Linked DNA regions of Homo sapiens. The protein of the gene in region 1 interacts with the protein of each later gene in a pairwise test. Each region holds a gene or a part of one and is shown in the gene's direction. Other genes may lie near its edges.

Region 1 (3,578 bases):
CACACACAGACGCACGCTGCCCCTCAGTTTTTTTCTGACACGCCTCTCGTTCTCTGCCGCCTGTCCCCTATCCTCTCCCCCACGTCCCTCCCATGGTCGCTGTTCTTTTATTTTTGATCGCCCCTGACCTCCCCCTTCCCCACCACTCCTTTTCCCTCTCCCCTCTCCCCAACCCCTTCCTGTGGCACCCCCTGAGAATCCCGAGATCAAAGAGTTGTTTCCATTTCTCTTTAAAGTGAAATATTGTGGGGCTGAGATCCCTCGTAGCAACAAAAAGTTTGCTACCATCGTCGAAGGCAAGTAAGGTCCATTCTGACTTTCTCAACCTGCACTTTGCTACATTTGATAAACCAGCCCCCGGACTCCAGGGCCAGATTCCTCCACATCACTCTTTTCTCCTCCCCTCCCGTCCCTGCCCCTCCTCCCTACACTCCTCCTCTCCTGCCCCTGCACTCTTGACTTCCTCCTCCTCGCTCGTCTCTGTCCTGCTCTCCCTTTCTGTCCTTTGCTCGTCTCTGCCCCTGCCTGCCACTTCCTTTCTACTTTCCTGCCACTTTTCTGTCTGTCTCCACTGGGTGGCCCTTCCTGTGTGCTCTGTCTCTTCATCTCTTGTGTTTCGTGTTTTTCTTCATTTTGTGTTGTCATCATGCCCTCTGCCTTTTCTTGAACAATCTTCTCCTTTCCCCTGATTTTTTGGGGCCCCTGTGGCTGTCCCCCAACGCCTGTCCATCGCCTGCCCTTGGCCGTCTCTTGCTACTGCTTCCTCCCCATTTTCTCTCTTGCTTCTGTTCTTACTATTGACTTCTACACCCCCACCCATATTCCACTGTTCCTTCCCCCCCTCCTCCCTCCCCTCATCCCTCTCCCCTTACCCCCAAACCCCTCTGTGTCTCCCTCTCTCACCCTTCCCCTCCTCTCTCCACCTCCCTTCCCCCGCCCCCCCCCTTGTCTCCTATTCCCTCTGCAGGAGGCCATGATGGATTTCTTCAACGCCCAGATGCGCCTGGGGGGGCTGACCCAGGCCCCTGGCAACCCAGTGTTGGCTGTGCAGATTAACCAGGACAAGAATTTTGCCTTTTTGGAGGTGAGCTGGGGGAGTGAGTGAGGTCCAGGAAACGTGTGTGATGTGAGGGCCCAGCCCTTAGGCTGATGTTGTGTGGAGCTGCCTTGTGCTGTTTCCACCAGGCCCTCTGCAGCCTCTTCTCCACCCGGTCGCTGAAGTGAGCCCTGTTATAGCATTACAGATCTGATCCTACTTTCTGCCTTCCATTTGCTTTCTGTGTGACCTGAGAGGCCTGTTTGGCCTCTGTAGACCTCTTTGGCCTTTTCCAGACCATTCCGGCCCAGTCCTCTCTGCACTCTGGCCACACTGACCTTCCCAGAACCTACCATGCTCCTGCCTGCTTGGCTAGAGTTCTTTACACCAGCTAACTGATGTTCCTAACTAGTCTTCTGTTACCCCAGCTAACTGATGTTCCTAACTAGTCTTCTGTGTCTGTGTTTCTCAACTGTCGGGAAAAGGCCTTGGTTTTTGATTTTCGACTCTTGGTGGACTGATAACTCTCATGAAGTATTGTGAAGGTGTGGGCAGTGTTAGCTTACTGCAGAGATTTCTGAGCACTCCCTCTCACTGTCTGAGCACTCCCTCTCACTCTGTCCCTCTCACTCTGTCTTTGCCTCACTGCAGTCCACTTGCAGTTGCATTGCTCCGGAGATGGGCTGAAATGTCCCCCTCACCAGAAAGACTCCAGTACTGTCATCTCCCCGTTCAACTAACCTTTCCCGTAACATCCCTTTTCAGCACTTTGTCCCTCTTCCGTGTCATCACAGCCTGCAATTGTGTGTTTGCCTCTGTGTTTGTGTTGGGTGCCTGGTGTTTTTAATGGTCGAGTGTGAGCTCCTGGCAGCAGGGACATGCGTGTCTGTTGTACTCCCAGTGCCCAGCCTGGGGCCTGGCATGTTGTATTTGTTCACATGAGTGAAAGGAAAGAGGAAATCCCAATCCTGGAACACTAGGGGCTGTACTAGTCCCTGACCCCCATCCCTCACCACTCCTTTCTCTTTCATTCAGTTCCGCTCAGTGGACGAGACTACCCAGGCTATGGCCTTTGATGGCATCATCTTCCAGGGCCAGTCACTAAAGATCCGCAGGCCTCACGACTACCAGCCGCTTCCTGGCATGTCAGAGAACCCCTCCGTCTATGTGCCTGGTGAGTGGGGGATCCATTAAGGGCCCCTTTCTCCCCCAGTCCTGTTCCCATGGCCTGTCCATCCCTTCAGCCCAGCTGGAGTGGCTTAGGAAGTTGTGTAAGTACTGTGGAAGATAGGTGCCTTTTCCCTGCTTCCCCTAAGTCTCTGTGAGTGGGGTGCTCTCCTGCTGGTAGAGAAGGTGCCTAGGGCCGGGAGAATGAGCTGTCACCTGCTGAGGACACACAGCTTGTACGTGGCAGAGCCAGGATCAGACCAAAGGTGCTGGGGAAGCGAGGGGCTTGTGGCCTGGACCTCGTGCCTGCGTTGCGGCTGTGGGACCTTGGAGGGCTCAGTCTGTGCCCGTCGGGGCTGCTGTGTGTCGACGGTTGGCAGCAAAGCTGCTGCTGTGGGGTCTGGCACCTGGGTATTCACTTGTTTTTGTCTCCTAGTGTTTGCCTTGAATCTTGTGTTCTGGGCCATTCCCCATAGCTGTGTTGAACATCATCTGTAATTGGTAGGTAACATAGCAGACCAGGGGTTGGCGACCATGTCACTGTGTGTGAAAGCAGCCGGACGGTGTCTGCGTGCGTGGGCCTGGCTGTGTGCCGGCACACCTCGACACGCGTGGCTGCTGAGGTTGGGCTTTCCTGTGCTTCTCACAGGCCACAGAATGGTCTCCCTTTAGAAAGCTTGCAGGATGTGCAAAACCAGGTGATGGGCCCTGTCAGCCCACAGGCTATAGTTGGCTGACCCTTGTAGCTGATGAATGGGATTTGAGGGAGGGCTTGTCTGATGCCCTGTCAGGGTGCGGCTGTGTCTCAGGCCTGGGACATGGAGGAGGTGGGGTTCTGCTGGCGGGTACTCACTGTTCGAGGAGCCCTTTAGGAACTGAGTCAGCTCTTCAGGGCAGGCGATGTGGAGCCCCAGACGGAGGCACATCTGTGTCAGGCAGGACTTGGGCTAGGTCCCTCACTGGCCTCCAGTGCTTTTCTTTTTGTTGTTGTTGTTGTTTTGAGACAGTCTCGCTCTGTCACCCAGGCTGGAATGCAGTGGCACGATCTCGGCTTACTGCATCCTCCGCCTCTAGGGTTCAAGCAATTCTCCTGCTTCAGCCTCCCGAGCAGCTGGGATTACAGGCACCTGCCACCATGTCTGGCTAATTTTTGTATTTTTAGTAGAGGGTGGGTTTCACCATGTTGGTCAGGTTGGTCTCCGACGCCTGACCTCAAGTGATCCGCTCACCTCAGTCTCCCAGAGTGTTGGGATTACAGGCATGAGCCACTGCGCTCAGCCCAGTGCTTTTCCATCATGGGTTTTGGTAAATTCAGCTAACCTTTTGGAGCCTGTAATATATGTTGACATGCTCCCAATCGACATGGACTTTTTAC
Region 2 (3,578 bases), on another chromosome or scaffold:
GTATCATGTACTTCTTTCTCTGATAGGATCAGAAGGGCACCTCACTTCTGTTGTATGCTCCTCCAAAAAAACCAAAACCCTACGAGAACACATCACCTGGGCCTCTTGCACCTTTTAGAAAGGGCAACCTTCTGATCCCTCCCCATCCTTCTTCCTCCACTAGTGGTGGTCGTGGTGACAGGACTGGCCGCTATGGAGCCACTGACCGCTCGCAGGATGATGGTGGGGAGAACCGCAGCCGAGACCACGACTACCGGGACATGGACTACCGTTCATATCCTCGCGAGTATGGCAGCCAGGAGGGCAAGCATGACTATGACGACTCATCTGAGGAGCAGAGTGCGGAGGTGAGGAGGGGGCGCGCTGCGCCAGGCCTGGCTGGGATGGGCTCCCAAGGGCCCTCTGTGTCTGGCTGCAGCACCGTGTGCAGGCAGCTCTCCACTCCCGTGCCTTCAGACTGTGCTCGGTGGCTTTGCCTCACCTGGAGGGCCTGTTCCCACTCCCCTCTCTGAGGGCTCCTCTCCCAACCTGGGTCTCCCTGGCTTCCACATGCTTGGCTCTGTACTTCTGAGGGCCCCTGGCCACCACTCTTTCCCTTTCTCCCTGTTGTTCAGTTCGGGCCCATGGCTCACTGTGAACCCTGTACTGCCCGCTCCCAGCCAACTTGGGCACTTGAAGAGCCTCTTCCATGGGACCCGGCGTCTGGGGTTGGGAGGACAACAAGGGGACTGCAGACCACCAAGCTGAGGAGCTCTGGGAGGCCAGCCATGGGCATTCCCAGTGGTGATAGAGCCCCTAGACAGAAGGGAAGGACCCTTCTGGAGAAGCCAGTGCCATGTTGGGTAGTTCACCCTAGCCTGCGGGATGAGGCGCGATGTTTACACCATCAGGGAGCCCCCACCCGAGGGGAAGAAACAGGCTTGCCTTAGGGGAATCCCAGTTGGAGGGGCAGTCAGGGACCTGGTCCATGCGAGCAGGCAGCTCTCCTGTCCAGCAGGCTGGGAAGGGAGTTCTTGCAAGCCCAGCCCTGGGGGGCAGTCTGTGAGCTGCCCACTGCCCTCTGGAGGGTCCAGGGCAAAAACCCCTTTGGTGGACTGCCAGGCTTCTCCAGTGGCAGCTGTCAAGCTGTGCCCAGACGTCTCCAGGAGCACTGGGCCCTGGCCAGGGTGGGAATGGAGCACCAAGTTATCTGGTGCTTCCCCACTGTGGGCGGGAGGGCTTTGGCCCCAGGCCTGCTCTGCTTAGTCCTGGAATGGATGGATTGGGCAACAGCCCAGAGCCCAACAGCCATACCGTTTTGAGCGTGGTGTGTGGTGGAGGACTGGCCAAGGCTGAGGATCAGGGACTGAGGAGGGAGTGTCTGCAGCCCTCACACCACCTCCACCAGCTCCTGCTGCCTGGCTCTGGCTGAGATCTGAAGCTGTTCTTATGCCCCCAGCTTGGTTGCAGGGTGGAACCGTAGGAGACATGCAGCCTTCGGTGGTACAGTGAAGCAATTGAGCACACCCCCTGAGCTGGCCAGAGAGGAGAGGAAAATCAAGGGTGGGGTCTGGTGTGCTGACCCCAGGCCATCTTGCCCCAAGGAGGTTTAAGCTGTGTCTTGTCAGCTACCTTTGGGAGTTCCCCCCACACCAATACTGTCACCTACCTCTCCCCACCCACTGAAGGCAGCCCCCAAAAGGACCCCATGGAGAATTTACAGTCCCAGAAAGATTGCAGGCCGGGGCCTGCCCACCCTGCCTGCCTGAGCCTTTAGCCGGAGCCCGCACATCCCTGGCTTTCAGAGCCTGCCTGCCTCACAGAGCCAGCGGCCAGCTCCTAGGCCTGCCCAGACTGACTGCCCGTCTGGTGTCACTCATCTCATTCTGTCGGCCAGGATTCCTACGAGGCCTCCCCGGGCTCCGAGACTCAGCGTAGGCGGCGGCGGCGGCACAGGCACAGCCCCACCGGCCCGCCAGGCTTCCCCCGAGACGGCGACTATCGGGACCAGGACTATCGGACCGAGCAAGGGGAGGAGGAGGAGGAGGAGGAGGATGAGGAGGAGGAGGAGAAGGCCAGTAACATCGTCATGCTGAGGATGCTGCCACAGGCAGCCACTGAGGATGACGTACGTGCCCCCCATGGCCCCGGGCAGGAGGCCAGGCTGGGTCTCCTCCAGGGCCCTCAACTTCTCCCCACCCCTCCCTCACCTGCAACCTCAGCGCCTTTCATCCCTTCTCCCCCTCCAGCTCCTATCCCCCAGCACTGATCCGTCCTCTGTGGGCAGGTCCCATCGGCCCCCCGGTCTGGAGGGAGGAGTGTCAGAGAGGCCGGCTTGGCCAAGGGACATTGGCCATGGGTGTCTGGTAGTGGTGGGTATGGGCGGGAGAAGAGCAGTCCTGCACATTCCACTGGTCATCCAGCCATTTTGCATGTGTGCATCATGGGCCAGACGCTCACCGGGCCAGTGCTGGCTATTGCTGGTAGCAGAGATGACACTGGGGCCCTGTAACCATTGGGGGAGGGATGGGATTTTCTGAAATTTCCTTCTCTTTTTCCCCCATCCTTTTTTGTCAGCAGCCTGGCCTGGCCTCAGAGCCTTGGGTGGCTGCTAACAGCCTCCACGCCTGCCTCCCTTTCCTCCTGTTTCCTTTTCATACATACTTCTCATGACAGCCACACTGAAGCCCCACGAGGCCTACCAGAATAACCTCCAAGAATAGTGTCCTGATCTTGGTCCTTCTTAGTCTACTCCGCCGCCCCTCACCCCCTACCCCCATGAATTCTCTGATCAGCCCTCCTCTGAAATCTGCTAGCTGCTCATTTTGTAACAGAGAAAATCCCACTTGTGTATTTGAGGGTTTCTAAGGTCTGGCCCACCTGCCCTGTTCAGGGTCAGACAGTAGCTGGTTGCTGACATTTGTTGAGAATGTATCTCAGGGTGGGCCATGTGTTAGGTATGATTCAGTCCCCATGGCAGCCCAGCAGGGAAGGTACTCTTTGTATTCCATCCTTCGGATGAGGAAACCAAGCCCTGAGTGGGAATGTGACTTGCCCCAGGTCTCATAGCCAGTGAGTGGCAGAGCAGAGCTGGAGTCTGAACCCGGGCAGCTGGACCCTAGAGCCCACTTTTTGCTGCTTCCTCAGCCTTCCCTGAGTTTGGAGTCCTGATAAGCTCTTCTGTGTGTTTTTCCTTTTCACCCTGTGTATGGGTGTGTGTAAGGCTAATGTCCTGTCTGTTGTTTAACCTGGTGGGGAAACTGAGGCCCAGAGACATGAAGACTCCTTCCCAAGAATGGCTGGCATAGGCTCCTGGTCCTCAGTGAGAGACCTCACTGGCCTAGAGACCCTGCCTCACCTGGGCCAAATCCTGAATTGCCTCTGCAGTTTCCCTCTGGCCTACTCCATCTGGGAAGCAATCCCCAGGACTACATCTTTTTGCTTTTTGTCTCCACCCTAAGTTATTGCTACAGTCATGGTCTAGGGCACATGGCTGGGATTTGCTCAGACTCCTGTCCTCCCCAGTTTGACATTTATGTCATGGATCTCTTTTGACGCAAGCTGCAGGTCAGCAGGGCAGGGGCGGGGGTGCGGGTTAT
Region 3 (3,578 bases), on another chromosome or scaffold:
ACATTTGTCATGAGAGCAGGTCCGTCCATGTGAAACGGATTTCAACATTTTGAGCCATTCATTGGTCTTTACAGTGACTGAACCCCTGGCCTTTATTAAGTTCTTTGTGTAAAATTAAAACTCTTAGGAATATTAAGGAATCAATAAGGTAAGTTGCCCAGTAAGTGTGGGTTTTATTTCACCATTATAATTTTTCCTCCAGGAAGTGGAGATTTCATGATATGTAACAATTGTATTTCTCTAATACAGTAATTTTTTCCATCAGTTTATGTAAGCATTATTCTTTCCGAGTTCATTAAAAATTTTCTGCCACATCTAAGAACATTTTGGTGCTAGCCTGGCAAACTATTTGTGCTTTTACCTGAATTGGAATTTTGAAAAGGAGAGTTTTCACGTTCTGTAAGCAGAAGTACAAGATGGGCATATCATGAGACCTCCGTTACACCGCAGTGTTAGGGATTCAAGGCAGCCGCCAACTGAGAAAACGCCTCTGCTTCTCCAGAAAATAACTTGCTCTCTTTTCAGCACTGAATCTCAACTGAAGCACTTGCCAGAGGCAGCCGGTTAAGTGTTTACCTTTAATTTTCCATAATATAAAGTTGTTGCGTTTTGTATTTCAGACCATTGCCCTCTTGAACATTTACCGTAACCCTCAAAACTCTTCCCAGTCTGCTGACGGTTTGCGCTGTAAGTTCATACAAGTTCCTTCCCCGGTTCCCTGGGCTTGCGTGTCAGAGCTCAGTGTCCACTCCATCTGGTCTGCCGTGCTAGTGTCAAGGACCGCGTTTCACTAGAGGTGGCAAGGAGCTTTCGTCCCACTGACCCCATGGAAACCTCTTTTGGAGATTTGAACTCCCACCGTGTGTTAAAAGGGAAAAAGTAACTGGAAAGGGTGCCCTTTAAAACAGTCTAGAGCTGGGCCGGGCGCGGTGGCTCACGCCTGTAATCCCAGCACTTTGGGAGGCCGAGGCGGGTGGATCATGAGGTCAGGAGTTCAAGACCAATCTGGCCAACATGGTGAAACCCCATCTCTACTAAAGATACAAAAATTAGCTGGGCGTGGTGGCAGATGCCTGCAATCCCAGCTTCTAGGGAGGCTGAGGCAGAGAATCGCTTGAACCCGGGAGGCGGAGGTTGCAGTGAACTGAGATCGTGCCGCTGCACTCCAGCCTGGGCGACAGAGTGAGACTCCGTCTCCAAAAAAAAAAAAAAAAAAAAAAAACCAGTCTGGAGCTGCTGCTGCCCCTTCTTCCTTTACTTTGGCCGTCATCCTAGAGGGAATGTACTGGAATTAAACGTCGAGTCATATTCTTCCCTCTTAGAGCAACAAAATTTGAATGTTTCTCTCACTTTCTGGAATTTTTAAAAAGCAAACTTTTTAAGTTATTTTTTCAGATTTTATTTCTCATTAGCCTTTTTTCCTTGAACTCCATTTTGGAGTGCACCCTGTAGTTGTAAGAGCATTGTGCTGAGAGCGTTCCCCAAATGAGGGTCTGCAGCTTGCACTGACCCCTGAGTTCCTCACCCACCAGCCCCGTGCCGACCCGTCTAACCCGTGTGGGGGTGCTCCACTCAAATAGGCCCTTGGCAGAAAAGATTGTCCGTTCTGTCCACACACTGCCTGGATACAGTCTCCAGCTCTAGGAGATGGAATTGGTTTGCTCCATTTAGAAATAGATCAAAACTGGGCATTCAGTAGATGGTACCAATATCTTCCTGTACTGGGAAATACTAAATTTAGATTGTGAATATTTACCTAATGATAATTTTTAGAGAAGGAGATATCATAGATGAGTATGATTGGGAAGTTCAGAAAACTAAAATTTGATTTTTACAGCCATCCAACTATAGAATCATTAGAATTTAGTCATTTATGGATAAATTAAAATGAACACCTGGACTCTTGTTAAAATCAGAAAGTCCAAACCAAAGATAGGCACTTCCCATTCACCATTCTGTTTTAAAGCAGTAAAAATTGAGGTGCCCTTGGATATCCACAAGCCTAAATTGAGTACACCCTTGAACCAGAGCCCCTCAGTTAATGGGGTGACCGACATGGGGTAGCTGATCCCAGGGGGCATTCCCCTCTCGAGCTGGCCCTGCACTGGGTGGCCTGGGGATTGTGCTTCCTTGCACAGTGGTGCACATTTCTATGTGTGGATGAGATTTTCTTGTCAACTTTTCCTGCCAAGACACTAAATGCTTTTCAGTGCTAATACTGACCTGATAGTAGAGATTTCTTTCCCTGAGTCGGATGGTAGCAGGATTTACTTGGTAACCCTTGGTTTAAAATACCTGTTTTTTTGTTTGTTTGTTTTCTTTTGTTTTTTAAGGAAATAAGATCAATAGGCGGAGGGAAATTGTTTCTATATGCACTTATTAAATAATTTTTGTTAACAACCCTGCCCTGGGATAAAAGTGAATGGAAGTACATGACTGAGTAACAGTAATTAATTCTTTGCCCTGATCGTTTATTTGGGGACTGTATATGCTTTCTTGACTGACAATAGAATGTTGTATTAGTTTTCATTGTGTCTTTATTTGCAGTTCACAGCACTTTTGTTTTCCATATGCTACAAACTAAAAGTTTAGCAATTACGTTATATTCCAATTCTGGAGTCCAGATTGTACAAATTAGATGAAATTCTAATTCGTCATTTTAGGAAGAAATCAATTACCTAAAATTACTGGCTCTTTTCAACATACCCTTTAGTATGTAAAAAAATAAGCTTCAAATGCGTGGGTTAAAGTTAACTATCAATCCCAGTTTAAGAATGATATTTCTGTAAGAAAACTGCTTTATTTTCCAAGTTGTAGTATTTAACATAGGCTGAGTCACAAATAAGTTTTTAATTGTATCTTAATGCAGTTGTCTCTGCCTTTCAAGTCACTTTGATTGAAACATTTTAAGCAGAACAAATATAGCCAATAATTTAAAATAATCACCCCAAAACCATTTCTCAAACCTGCTAAAACTTTGAGCATGTGAATAATTTTCTCCTCTTCACATTCTTCTTATGTGGGAAGGAAGTGAATTTGAAATATTAAAATCTGCCCTTTGGAATAGGCTACTTTGGCCGTTTATAACTTGATTTCTACTCGGGGAGGAAGGTACATTCCCAATAGCTTTCCAATTGGGATATCCTGTGATATGATTGGCAGGCTGTCCGAGTAGTTACACTTAATAAAATTTGGGTTCGAAAGCAGATTCCTGGAAGTTCAAAAATAATTAAAACAGCCCCGGATAGGTTAGAAAGTGAACTTAAATCATTCTCAGAATTAGAAAATAAGAAGTTATTTTTTATCTTCAAAGATAAAAAGGGGGCCGGGCACGGTGGCTCACACCTGTAATCCCAGCACTTTGGAAAGCCGAGGCAAGTGGATCACGAGGTCGAGAGATTGAGACCATCCTGGCCAACATGGTGGAACCCCGTCTCTACTAAAACTACAAAAATTAGCCAAGATCACGCCATTGCACTCCAGCCTGGAGACAGTGAGACGCTGTCTCAAAAAAAAAAAAAAAAAAAGATAAAAAGAGTTTTGAGCAAGCTCAAAGACCCGTGTGCCAGCAGTCAGAT
Region 4 (4,196 bases), about 53 Mb from region 1:
GGCCGAGGCAGGCGGATCACGAGGTCAGGAGTTCAAGACCAGCTTGGCCAACATAGTGAAACCCCCGTCTCTACTAAAAATACAAAAATTAGCCGGACGTGGTGGCAGGCGCCTGTAATCTCAGCTACTCGGGAGGCTGAGGCAGGAGAATCGCTTTAACCCTGAAGGCGGAGGTTGCAGTGAGCCGAGATCACGCCACTGCACTCCAGCCGGGGCGACAGTGTGAGACTCCGTCTCAAAATAAAAAAATAAATAAAACAAAAAACAATGTCCAACAAAAAAACAAATCCAGCGAGGCCAGACAGGATAGGGGCTCCCTGGGGTCCGCCCATTTTCGGGATCAGGTGACTCGAGGTTTGGTCCTTATTTTAGTGCAGGCTCAGATGTCGGGGGCGAGCCAAAGTGCAGGGGCCTGTGGGAAGGACAGGAGGCTGGGAAACGTTTGGGTAAAAAAATCAGGACACTGGCCGTGCGCGGTGGCTCACGCCTGTAATCCCAGCACTTTGGGAGGCCGAGGCGGGCCGATCACGAGGTCAGGAGATCGAGACCATCCTGGCTAACACGGTGAAACCTCGTCTCTACTAAAAATACAAAAAAATTAGCCGGCGTGGTGGCGGGTGCCTGTGTCCCAGCTACTCGGGAGGCTGAGGTAGGAGAATGGCCTGAACCCGGGAGGCGGAGCTTGCAGTGAGCCGAGATGGCGCCACTGCACTCCAGCCTGGGCGACAGAGCGAGACTCCACCTCAAAAAAAAAAAAAAAAAAAAAAAAAAAAATCAGGACACTGACAGCACGTGCTCCAGCACGGGGCAGGGCCTCCATGGGGTCCGCGCCCACGCGGGGCAGCGCGGTGACGTCACGGCTGAGGACCCCGCCCCACGAAGGGCTCACCCCACGCGACCCACGCCGCTCGCTCGCCCCTCCCCTCCACGCAGCACTCCGGCTGCTCCGTGGGGAAACTGAGTCTGGACTTCTCGTGCCCGTTCGGGAGAAGGACGCGGGAGGCGCGGCCGAGCTGCGGGGAGAGGTTGGGCTCACCCCGGGCCAGAGCGAGTTCGCGCAAACGGGAGTGTCCACCGCTGGCGGGTCAGCCACTAGCGTTGGCTACGCGCCGGTCACTCGGGCGACAGGAGGCGGGGCGGCGCGGAAGTTATCTTCCAATCAGGTGCTCCGGGGGCGGGTCCGGAAAACTGTCCAATCAAGGCACGGGGCGGACACCGGGAAGCGGATTGCAGGTTTGCAGTAGTGTCCAATCGAAGGCCCCAGGGGTGAAGGGGGCGTGTCCAAAACGCTGTCCGCTCAGAGCGTTGAAAGGGCGGGGGCTTAGAGATTGTCCAATCAGGGCGCCGCTTCCTGAGCTCCGAGGCCCCGAGGGCGGGACGTTTCGTCCTCCCTGCCGCGCGTGCCCTGCCTACCACGAGCGGCCCGGGAGTACCTGTACCTTTCAGCTGCGCCGGCCGCGAGGCCACGGAGAGCTCGCCTTGGAGAGCCCAGGAGCAGGGGAGACATGGTGAGTGCGAGGCAGGAGCAGAGCCAGGGGACGGTCGGAGCGACGGGAACCGGCTGGAACCAGAGTCCGCCGAAGTCTGCGGCCGGGATTGGCTGAGGGACGCGCGGGGCGGCGCAGGACTAGCACCTGGGACCCGGGGACGCCATCACAGCGGCCGGGCTGGAGGACTGGGGGCAGTTTGGGGGGACGGAAGGGGCGGCAAGGAGCTTGGGGGTAACTTAGGGGGAGGCCTGGGCAGGAGGGGGGCTGGAGGTAGTTTGGGGGGACGGTAGGGGCGGTCAGGGGTCAGGGACCAGTTTGGGGGGACGGCAAGGGACGGTCAGCAGGTTGGGGATGTTACGCGTGTCCGTATAAGAGGTCACCTGAGCAGGCTTAGTGTGAGCCACAAGGCTGTTTACTCACTTGGGTGCAAGTGGGCTGAGTCTGAGAAAGGACTCAGCAAAGGGTGATGGGATTATTATTGGTTTTATTTTTTTATTTTTTTTATTTTTGGGACGGAGTCCCGCTCTGTCGCCAGGCTGGAGTGCAGTGGCGTGATCTCGGCTCACTGCAACTTCCGCCTCCCGGGTTCAAGCGATTCTCCTGCCTCAGCCTCCGGAGTAGCTGAGATTACAGGCGCCCGCCCTCACGCCCGGCTAATTTTTGTTTTTAGTAGAGACAGGGTTTCACCATGTTGGCCAGAATGGTCTCGATCTCTTGACCTTGTGATCCGCCCGCCTCGGCCTCCCAAAGTGCTGGGATTACAGGCGTGAGCCACCGCGCCCGGCAATCATTAGTCCTTATAGGTTTGGGACAGGCATCGGAGTTAGGAGCAGTTTTTTTGAGGACAGTTGGTGGGTGTTACAAAGTACATTCTCAAGGGCGGCGACGATGTTTCAAAGTACATTCACAAGGGCTTGGGGGATGTATTGTCACAAGGGCTGGGAGGAATATTACAAAGTACCTTCACAAGGGCGCGAGCGTGTATTGTCACAAGGGCGGGGTACATTCACAAGGGCGAGGAGGACGTATCGTACAAAGTACATTCACAAGGGCGGGGGAATATCACAAAGTACATTATCACAAGGGCGGGGGGCTTGACCATGGTGCGGCCAGCTCAGAGAACCTTACAGGGGACAGCTTGGGGGGATGGCAAGGGACGGCCTGGGGGTCAGAGGCAGTTTGGGGGACGACCTCAGCGGTGGGAGTTAGCTGCCCTGGGGGTTTTGTTGCAGGGTATCACTAATGCTGTGAAAGCTTTATTCGGGCAGCCGGTGTCAGTAAATGTACTGTACTGTTCTCCTGTTTGGCTTTTTTCTTCTCCTTAGTGACAATAGGAAAATGTTCAAGTGTGTTTTCTGCCTTCTGGTCCGTCAGGATAACACCTGTTTATCGTGGGGTACAGGCTAAGCATGGCCTAAGGAAGTCTCTCAGGAATATTCTGTCTCCCACCAGAATTGTAGAGAAAGTGTGCGCAGTTCCACATCTTATAGCAGCTAGAGATGGATTAAAATGTTCATAAAAATAGTAGTTTTTCAAATGCCAAAGCAATCAGACAAAAAATAATAGTTATTCTTCCATACAAGGTGCAGAGTTTGCGACAGTGTGTGATCGTGTTCCATTTCAGTTCAGCTAGACATGAGATTAATGCAAATTCTGCAAAAACCTGTAAAACTGAGGCGTGTTCCATTCTGGTTAGTTTCCAGTTTGTCACCAGGAGTATTGCTTCACTGATCCATCATCTGTTTGCTGACTGGGAAAAGCAGTTTCTGGCCATGTAAAGTCATAAAGACTGCCTTGGAACTCCCTTCCCCCACTTACACAAGGGGTGGAAAGCACTGATTCTGCTGCATTCTCACTCTACGGGATGAGGGTCTTTGTGGCATTTAAAGTGTAGCACCTGGAGCAGGGAGGTGAGCCCCAAGACCGGTGACTCCAGCTGAGCCCACAGTTGAGCCTGCACTGGAGGCCGCTGAGGGTGCAGCGGGGTCTGGCTGGGCAGCCTCCACTTGCTCAGTCCTCCTGCCTCGTAGAACAGCCGCAGCGGGAACTGTTCATGCTGATTGAGGCTGCTGAGCATGGGAAAGACGATTGTCCTGGAGATGTGCTTGTGGGCGTTTTAGCCTTTCTGAGGTTGCACCTGTGCTGTCTTGGAGCCGTTTCTAAGCAGTGGGTTTAGTTTATGCTTTAAGTGTTGTTTTTCTTTTTTGGAGACACTGTGTCTCCCAGGCTGGAGTACAGTGGCGTGATCTCCACACATTGTATCATCCGCCTCCCGGGTTCAAGCAATTCTCCTGCCTCAGCCTCCCGAGTAGCTGGGATTACAGGCACTTGCCACCACGACCGGCTAATTTTTATATTTTTAGTAGAGACGGGGTTTCGCCATGTTGGCCAGGCTGGTCTCAAACTCCTGACCTTAAGTGATCCACCCTCCTCCGCCTCCCAAAGTGCTGGGATTTCAGGCGTGAGCCACCGCGCCCGGCCTGGATTAAGTTTTAATATAAACACCAGTGGCCTTACTGCCCGCATAAATAGGCCTCCGGCCTCTCTTCAACACCTGTGTGCTGCTCCCAGCGCTCATCTCTGTTCTGCCCCCAGGGTAACCACTGTCCTGATTTTTTTTTTCATTCTCTCTACCTTTACCATTTATTATTTATCACCATACAGAGTTTTAATTTTGCCTCCTTTGAATTTTTTTTTTTTTTCAGG

The links.
Region 2: the proteins of U2AF2 (region 1) and RBM10 interact in binary tests that used the Homo sapiens proteins (3 or more experiments, as listed by UniProt).
Region 3: the proteins of U2AF2 (region 1) and splicing factor U2AF 35 kDa subunit-like protein interact in binary tests that used the Homo sapiens proteins (3 or more experiments, as listed by UniProt).
Region 4: the proteins of U2AF2 (region 1) and ZNF57 interact in binary tests that used the Homo sapiens proteins (3 or more experiments, as listed by UniProt).

What each region holds. Positions count from the first base shown.
Region 1 is NC_000019.10:55,661,535-55,665,112, forward strand, and holds part of U2AF2 (splicing factor U2AF 65 kDa subunit), read left to right. Parts: intron 1-236; exon of another isoform or gene 237-296; intron 297-967; coding exon 968-1,084; intron 1,085-2,071; coding exon 2,072-2,210; intron 2,211-3,578. UniProt on the Homo sapiens protein: Plays a role in pre-mRNA splicing and 3'-end processing. By recruiting PRPF19 and the PRP19C/Prp19 complex/NTC/Nineteen complex to the RNA polymerase II C-terminal domain (CTD), and thereby pre-mRNA, may couple transcription to splicing.
Region 2 is NC_000023.11:47,169,152-47,172,729, forward strand, and holds part of RBM10 (RNA-binding protein 10), read left to right. Parts: intron 1-163; coding exon 164-347; intron 348-1,876; coding exon 1,877-2,107; intron 2,108-3,578. UniProt on the Homo sapiens protein: Binds to ssRNA containing the consensus sequence 5'-AGGUAA-3'. May be involved in post-transcriptional processing, most probably in mRNA splicing. Binds to RNA homopolymers, with a preference for poly(G) and poly(U) and little for poly(A).
Region 3 is NC_000021.9:6,489,240-6,492,817, reverse strand, and holds part of splicing factor U2AF 35 kDa subunit-like protein, read left to right. Parts: intron 1-525; coding exon of another isoform or gene 526-563; intron 564-620; coding exon 621-687; intron 688-3,578. UniProt on the Homo sapiens protein: Plays a critical role in both constitutive and enhancer-dependent splicing by mediating protein-protein interactions and protein-RNA interactions required for accurate 3'-splice site selection. Recruits U2 snRNP to the branch point.
Region 4 is NC_000019.10:2,899,541-2,903,736, forward strand, and holds the start of ZNF57 (zinc finger protein 57), read left to right. Parts: upstream 1-1,387; 5' UTR 1,388-1,505; coding exon 1,506-1,508; intron 1,509-4,196. UniProt on the Homo sapiens protein: May be involved in transcriptional regulation.